3 separate regions of the Homo sapiens genome follow, and all the other regions are linked to region 3. Evidence: fine-mapped expression QTL. A gene starts in region 3. Each other region holds a variant in brackets. All regions are shown on one strand. Distances are from middle to middle.

Region 1 (2,765 bases), 25 kb after region 3:
CTCTGTTTTGTCTCTTTGGTCTGAGTGTCTATCTGAGGCCAATACCACAGTACCAAATGCGATTGCTTTAGAGGAAGTCTTGAAATCAGATGAGGTAAGCCTTCCAGTTTTGTTCAGCCTGTTGGCTATTTTCTATGAATTTAAGAAGCAGCTGAAAATTGATGTTAATTACAAAAAAAAAAACCTACTGAGATTTTATTGGGATTGCTTTGAACAGATTAATTTAAGGAGAGAGACACCATCCAAATATCCAGTCGTCTGGTCCATGAACATGGTTTTCCTCTCTGTTTATTTAGGTCTTTTAAAACTTATCTTAGCAATATTTTCTAGTTTTCATTTTACAAGTCTTAAAAATATTTGTCAAATATTTATCAAAATGTTCCATATTTTGATGACTTTATAAATGATATTTAAATGTAAATTCCCAATTGTTCATTGCAAGTTTATAGAAACAGTTGTTCTGTGTATCCTCAGCCTTGGTAACTTCCCTCTTAGTTCTAGGCATTTTTTTGTGTCAATGAAAAGAGTCAAACTCTGTAAAGTATTTGAAGAGATTTATTATGAGCCAAAAGAGAGTGGCCAATGTCCTGTGACGCAGCCTCAGGAGATGCCGAGAACATGTGCCTCAGGTGGTCGGGGGCAGCTCGGTTTTCTACCTTTTAGGGAGACATGAGGTATCAATCAAACACGTGTAAGATGTACGTTGGTTTCATCTCGAAGGGTGGGACAACTCTAAGTGGGGGACTTCCAGGTCATTTAAGATTTAAAGATTTTCTGATTGGCAATTGGTTATTATCAATAGAAGGGAGTGTCTGGGTTATGATAGGGGATTGTAGAGACCAAGGTTTTATCATGCAAATGAAGCCTCCAGGTATAGACTGTAAATGTTTCTTCTCAGACTTAAGAGATCTGTGTTGATATTAATGCTAGTCAGCTTTTCCTGAATTCCAAATGGGAGAGGGAATAACGAGGCTCGTCGACCCCATTCCCATCATGGGCTGAGCTATTTTTTCAGGTTAACTCTGGAATGCCCTTGGCCAAGGGGAGGAGTCTGTTTAGATTGTTGGGGGGCTTAGAATTTATTTTTGGTTTACATGTTATGCAGAATTTTCTACAGATGATGATGCCCTCTGTGAGTAATGATAATCTCACTCTTTTCTTTCCAAAC[A/G]TGATGTGTTTTTTGCTTGTCTGAGTAAGCCGACTAGGATTCCTGGCACCATCGTGAACGGCTCTGGTGGGCACAGGCAGCCCTCTGCTGCTTCTGATCTTAGGTGGGAAACTGTCATATTTCACCACTAATAAAATTTTAAAAGACAATTCTGGCAAAGATCAGAAATGGCAAAGACAGTGGAGGGTGACAGAGGGGTTTGCCTGCAACAGTTCATGTTTTTTATTTTGTTAAAAGAGAGTTACAATTATTACAGAATATTATCGGGTAGAAAACAAATGGCATTTGTCTTACATTATTCTTTCTACTTTGCTTTTTGTTTTTAAAAAATATACCAGAGAAATGAAAATAAAGTCAGCCTCCATAAAATTATGAAGAAGAAAGGCAGTATCATAATGATTATGCAGGAACCAAGGACTGGCCTGGAAGATGGGCCCCCAAGCTCACAGGGACACCAGCAGGCACTGCTTCTAGACATGGAGCCTCAGTTCCAGAATGTCCCGTGACATGACCAGGAGTAGGGAACCAGCCCTCCCGACCTCCATGTCTTATTTGCCAGGCAGGGGTAACTGCAGGCTGGCCCTGACCAGGATGACCACTGGCTCCCACTGTGGATGCATTTCGTGCGTGGCCTGCATTGGACATCGGCTCACCCATGTGCTGGGGTGTCCAGGGTCCAGGGGAAGCTCCAGGACACATTTGAGGATCAGGAGAGCAACCTGCATAGTGCAGGACTCTTGTCAGGGAGACCACGACCCGGGAGCCTTTCCTAGAAGACACAGAGTCCCCAAAAATACCTGTGACAAGGGTCTCATCACAGCACTGTCTGAGAGTGCTTGGAGAGAGGGAACCTGCCTGCAGCTGTTCCCAGAGCAGTGGGGCGGGGGACACTCCCCTACTGAAGAAGGCATTTCCTTTTGGCGCCTCCAGTTCCCCCTGCCAGGACGTCAGCACCCAGGCTCTGATGTGGGCTGCTGGGGGCCACGGCACTGCAATGCTGCCCTGGATTGAATGGGGCGGGGGCTATAGATGTATAATACAAGTTGGATTTTAGAGACTTGGTATGTGGCATAGAGTCTCAAATGTCCAAAGATGTGTCGCATTGATTTCAGGGTGAGTGGATAGTTGTTCTGATATACTGAGTTCAGTAAAATACATCGGCAGCAGGAATTTTACCGGTTACTGTTTCGTTTTTGTAAATATGGCTACCACAAAATATAAGGGCACGCAGGTTCACGCCCTCACCCAGCACTGGCCTCCCCTTCCCAGACAATCAGCCACATCTTCGCCTGCCAGCATGGCCCCTTGTTCTCAGGGCTCCTGCCCTCATGCTCCTGTGTCCTCCAGTCCCCCTGCCCTCTAGGAAGCCTCGTGGCTGATGGGGCTTTGCTCAACCTGGTCTCGCGCTCACCTCCACCTTTGGCTCTAAGGCTTGTCATCCCTAAATGAGTGCCACCGTCACGGAAGCTTCAGGTCCACAGAGCTGGATGCCCCGGCCAGGCCTGCCAGCCTCATTCCTCGTCCAGAGCACAGTAGCTCCTGCAGGTTCCCCTCCTATTTGACCAAAATAACCCTCCCGATCCCCTAAATTTAAAAC
Region 2 (2,765 bases), 46 kb after region 3:
CGACCTCCCTCTGGGATTCGAATCCAGCCCTCCCACCTGGCAGTCATGGGACCTCCCTAAGCGGTTTAACTGCCAAGTCCCAGATCCCATCTGTGAAGCCAGGTGATAAAAGCTGTGGGTCACTGGGTCTCCTGGGTTCCCAGAGGTGCCCATGGCCGTCTCTAGAACAGCAGCTCCCCGTGGGTGGCACCTGTGTTCCCAGGCACAGTCCCGCCTGGATGCCTCCAGCCCACCTGGAGCTGTGAATGAACCAGCACCTTTCCCGCCTCCTTCCAGCCCTCCGACCATGGCCTCTCGCAGGACCCCTGGGAATCACCCTCATCTGTCACTGTTTCCCCACCGGGACCCACCACCGAGGCTACCAGGGAAAAGCCACAGGATTTGTTTGCATCTGGGGAGGCAGCTCCACCTTCCTGGCATGAATGGTCACTAATGATTGGACTTTGTCAGCCTGCAAGGCAGGAAGGAGATTTACTCTCCACAGACTGGACAGTCCTTAGCTTTGTGCTTGCCACATAAATGGCATTTAATACATGCTCCCTGGACTCAGCACCACTCCTGAAGGCCTGTATTGTGGTCAGCAGTTATCATTTCTTCCACAAATGAGCTCATTCTTCTCCTCTCAGGATCAACCCTTTCGCCTTCACTGAGGCATCAGACACCAGCATTCGGAGGGACACCCACTCCATCCTCTTCTCTCAGCTGCCTGTGGAAATTCCCATCTCAAACACGTGACTCCCCACAGAGTGGCACTCACTGATCACGGATCTTAACTTTAAAAGGTGAAAAATAAGTCAAGGCTTAAGGTAAAGTAACGGGAGGTGTGGATGTCTGAGCAATGCGGTGAACCGAGTCACGGGGCCGCGGAGATGTTCGCAGCTGGGACTTTCCAGGCCTCCCGAACGCAGAGCGCCCGAAGCCATCAGTGGCCACAGAGTGTGTTTCAGGTGTGATTTGGGGTCATTTATGCCAATTTTATTCTTCTTTTATTTCCATCTGGTTTTCTTTCTATAAATTGCATACGTCATGCATGCTACGTTTTATAGTCATCCGTGTGACATCCGTCTCGCACAGTGAGTTAAGGAGGACGTTCCGCTACAGCTGTACTTTTTACTCAGCAAAATAAAAAAAGAATAAAGATGAGCTTGAAACTCCTTTGGAATCACTACATTATCTGTTGCTTAGCAAAAGCAATCCATGAATAACACACATGTACACACATGATACACATTCATAC[A/T]CACACAAAAACACGTCTGCACATATGTGTATACATACACATAGAGACATAGGCACACATGCTCTGAAGGTCTGCATGGTGGAAAATTCTAGACATGTTCATTTCTACTTCCTGCCAAGCGCTGAAAACTTGGTGTGCCTGAAAAATCACTTGGCTTCTGTAACCAGATTTACCAAATTAAAAAATTAAAACTGTCCAAGTGTAGAGGCACTAGAGTTTTGTGTCATCATTATTTTTTGAACCACCAAACTTTTATGATGTTGTTGCATTTTTAACAATGCTTGAGTCAAATATCTCACGTAAAAAGAAAACTTCTAAAAAGAAAAAACAATCTAAAATCATGAAAATTTTTGAAAGCATAACCTGCAGTCTCTCCCTCCCCAAAATTGTGTGAATTTGTATGTCATGCATTGATTTCTTACAGTAGTCAGAATGTCAGCCGAATACCACAAAACACGTGTGTTTAGAGAGACTCCCCCGAAGTTGGGAGTGGTGAGAAATGGCGGGAGCTTGTCCCGAACAGACTCCTGGTGCCAACAATACCAGTGAGGAAGGTTCATCTCGAAAAACAAAAGCACTGAAGAGAAGCTGCATGAAACGAGGGGAACTTCACTTTTATCCTTAGATAAATGATTTTTTTAAATTTTGTGGCCACATAGGTGTATGAATTTATGGGGTATGTGAGATGTTTGGATACAGGCATGCAGTGTGAAGTAAGCACATCACAGAAAACGGGGCGTCTGTCCCCTCAAGCACTTATCCACTGAGTTACAAACAACCCAACTACACTCCCTAAGTTATTTTAAAATGCACAGTCAAGTTCTTACTGACTGTAGCCCCCCTGTTGTGCTATCGAACACCAGGTCTTACTCATTTTTCTATTTTTGCACCCATTAACCATCCCACCTCTCCCAGCCCCGCTACCCCTTCCAGCCTCTGGCAACCGTCCTTCCCCACCCCATGTCCATGAGTTCAATTGTTTCAATTTTTAAATCTGACAAATTAGTGAGAGAGAGAGAGCAATGTTTGCCTTTCTGTGCCTGGCTTAGAGAAATCATTTTAAAATTTCTGGTGTGCTTGATGGTGACAACTAACAGCCTGTGAGTTGGGGCTGCTCCGGTGAGGGGTGTGATGACGGGGAGGCTTCAGCCAGGTGGGCAACCAGGCCCTGACAATGGCCCAGCGGCGACGGGAGCCTGATGAATGTGCTGCAGGAGGTCAAGGCTGCACATCGATGTCCTCACGGCTGTGTGAATGGGTGTGAGACAGAGTCGTGCAAGTTCCAGCTGTGACTGATGAGAAAAATCACAGATATCACAATTTTCCCAGCCACAAAATGGGGGAGCAGCAGAGTGAGGGCCCAGTGCAGAGGAGAGACAGACACACCTGCACACGCACGGCGGGACGGGCAGCTGCATGCTCACCCCAGGACCTGGTGTGGAGGAGTACAGACACACCTGCACACTCACGGTGGGACAGACAGCCACACACTCACCCCAGGACCTGGTGCAGAGGTGGAGACAGACAC
Region 3 (2,765 bases):
GTGTCTCAGAGCTAATGCTCTGTGCTGACAGCAGCCAGGCACCACGACGGTGCCATGGGTACAAGGAGGAGGTGTCTCAGAGCTAATGCTCTGTGCTGACAGCAGCCAGGCACCACGACGGTGTCATGGGTACAAGGAGGAGGTGTCTCAGAGCTAATGCTCTGTGCTGACAGCAGCCAGGCACCATGACGGTGCCATGGGTACAAGGAGGAGGTGTCTCAGAGCTAATGCTCTGTGCTGACAGCAGCCAGGCACCACGACGGTGTCATGGGTACAAGGAGGAGGTGTCTCAGAGCTAATGCTCTGTGCTGACAGCAGCCAGGCACCACGACGGTGTCATGGGTACAAGGAGGAGGTGTCTCAGAGCTAATGCTCTGTGCTGACAGCAGCCAGGCACCACGACGGTGCCATGGGTACAAGGAGGAGGTGTCTCAGAGCTAATGCTCTGTGCTGACAGCAGCCAGGCACCACGACGGTGTCATGGGTACAAGGAGGAGGTGTCTCAGAGCTAATGCTCTGTGCTGACAGCAGCCAGGCACCACGACGGTGTCATGGGTACAAGGAGGAGGTGTCTCAGAGCTAATGCTCTGTGCTGACAGCAGCCAGGCACCACGATGGTGCCATGGGTACAAGGAGGAGGTGCCTGGTTTTCGGGAGCTTGCCATCTGAACAGACCCAAGGTGGCAAATACACAGTGAGAAAATGGGGCCATGAGTGCTGTAATTACCTACAGAATGTTTAGGGGGACTGGGAGCAAAAACAATCCCCTCTTTCAGAAACCAATCCTGGAAGGTGCTGGAAGGTTGTACTAGCTGTGAAAGTCAGAGGCCACCAGGCAGCTATCGTGAGACCAAAGGCAGTAGTCAGCTCAGGCAAGCCGGTTTCCTTATTTATGTCAAATTCCTCAGTCTTGGGTCTCCTTATCTTTTAAATAAGGAGTTAGAATAGAATTTGAGGGCTGTTCACTCAGGCATCCATGGTGGCTGCAGCATAAGGAGTGTGTGGTGTCAGGATGGGAAGGGCAACATGGAGACTGCATGGCCATTGACGTCTGAAAGTCTCTGGTTGCCAAAAAGAATCTATCTACAACAGCATTCATCCTGACAGCAGCCAACAGGCAGCCTAGACCTGGCATGCCACAGCTCCTCTAGGCTCTGAACCCCTCTCAGCTGAGCCTGGTAGATGCCAGCTGACCGGCTGCAGCCCCTGAGTAGAGGTTGGCTGTCCTAGCAATAGAGTAGGGCGGGGGCACAGCAGACATGGGACCATCATCTGGATTCCTAGACGTGCAACTGCAAGTGAGTACATAACCTCCTGAGCCCCAGCTCTCACCTGAAAGCTGAGTTAGGCGCACACACAGGAAGGCAGAGATGGGTCCAGGGCTGGGCTTCTGGTTCCTCTACTCAAACTCTGCTGCTCCCTGCCCCTCTGCCATCCCTGCAAGCTCCTCACTGACCATGCTTGTCTCAAGCGTTCTCTCTTCCTCCTGACCTCCTGGGGACTTCATAAATCCAGTATCTTTTTAAAATAATCTATTATTTTAGGCTCAGGGCTACATGTACAGGTTTGCTATACAGGTAAACTCATGTCTGGGGGTTTGTTGTACAGATTATTTCATCACCCTACATGTACAGGTTTGCTATGTAGGTAAACTCATGTCTGGGGGGTTTGTTGTACAGATTATTTCATCACCCTACATGTACAGGTTTGCTATACAAGTAAACTCATGTCTGGGGGGTTTGTTGTACAGATTATTTCATCACCCTACATGTACAGGTTTGCTATACAAGTAAACTCATGTCTGGGGGGTTTGTTGTACAGATTATTTCATCACCCTACATGTACAGGTTTGCTATACAAGTAAACTCATGTCTGGGGGGTTTGTTGTACAGATTATTTCATCACCCTACATGTACAGGTTTGCTATACAGGTAAACTCATGTCTGGGGGTTTGTTGTACAGATTATTTCATCACCCTACATGTACAGGTTTGCTATACAGGTAAACTCATGTCTGGGGGGTTTGTTGTACAGATTATTTCATCACCCTACATGTACAGGTTTGCTATACAGGTAAACTCATGTCTGGGGGTTTGTTGTACAGATTATTTCATCACCCTACATGTACAGGTTTGCTATACAGGTAAACTCATGTCTGGGGGGTTTGTTGTACAGATTATTTCATCACCCTACATGTACAGGTTTGCTATGTAGGTAAACTCATGTCTGGGGGGTTTGTTGTACAGATTATTTCATCACCCTACATGTACAGGTTTGCTATACAGGTAAACTCATGTCTGGGGGTTTGTTGGACAGATTATTTCATCACCCTACATGTACAGGTTTGCTATGCAGGTAAACTCATGTCTGGGGGTTTGTTGTACAGATTATTTCATCACCCTACATGTACAGGTTTGCTATACAGGTAAACTCATGTCTGGGGGTTTGTTGTACAGATTATTTCATCACCCTACATGTACAGGTTTGCTATACAGGTAAACTCATGTCTGGGGGGTTTGTTGTACAGATTATTTCATCACCCTACATGTACAGGTTTGCTGTGTAGGTAAACTCATGTCTGGGGGGTTTGTTGTACAGATTATTTCATCACCCTACATGTACAGGTTTGCTATACAGGTAAACTCATGTCTGGGGGTTTGTTGGACAGATTATTTCATCACCCTACATGTACAGGTTTGCTATGTAGGTAAACTCATGTCTGGGGGGTTTGTTGTACAGATTATTTCATCACCCTACATGTACAGG

Direction of the effects. Positions count from the first base shown, and alleles are read on the strand shown. Sizes are in standard deviations (SD) of each study's normalised expression. Not every link is listed here.
For the expression in left ventricle of the gene that starts at base 1,256 in region 3, allele G in region 1 goes with a lower level than allele A (moderate effect, 0.54 SD a copy in GTEx).

Evidence for each region. PIP is the estimated chance that this variant, and not a neighbour inherited with it, causes the effect. A credible set is the group of variants that fine-mapping cannot tell apart.
Region 1: its variant is the best candidate, but not a certain one, in a credible set for the expression of LINC01880 in left ventricle (GTEx, PIP 0.66).
Region 2: its variant is the best candidate, but not a certain one, in a credible set for the expression of LINC01880 in left ventricle (GTEx, PIP 0.58).

What each region holds. Positions count from the first base shown.
Region 1 is chr2:242,057,626-242,060,390 of GRCh38, reverse strand. All of the region lies in intron 3 of LINC01237 (long intergenic non-protein coding RNA 1237), which reads right to left. It overlaps LINC01880 (long intergenic non-protein coding RNA 1880), which reads left to right. Exons shown (of 4, transcript NR_146651.1): 2 at 1-94. Among named protein-coding and RNA genes, the nearest start is that of LINC01880, 25 kb to the left of the region's middle. The variant A/G (reference allele first, on the strand shown) is at 1,169.
Region 2 is chr2:242,036,385-242,039,149 of GRCh38, reverse strand. The region is part of intron 3 of LINC01237 (long intergenic non-protein coding RNA 1237); the gene reads right to left. It overlaps LOC105373980 (a long non-coding RNA gene), which reads left to right. Exons shown (of 3, transcript XR_924086.3): 2 at 1-102; 3 at 277-1,155. Among named protein-coding and RNA genes, the nearest start is that of LINC01880, 46 kb to the left of the region's middle. The variant A/T (reference allele first, on the strand shown) is at 1,238.
Region 3 is chr2:242,082,629-242,085,393 of GRCh38, reverse strand. It overlaps LINC01880 (long intergenic non-protein coding RNA 1880), which reads left to right and starts at 1,256. Exons shown (of 4, transcript NR_146651.1): 1 at 1,256-1,298.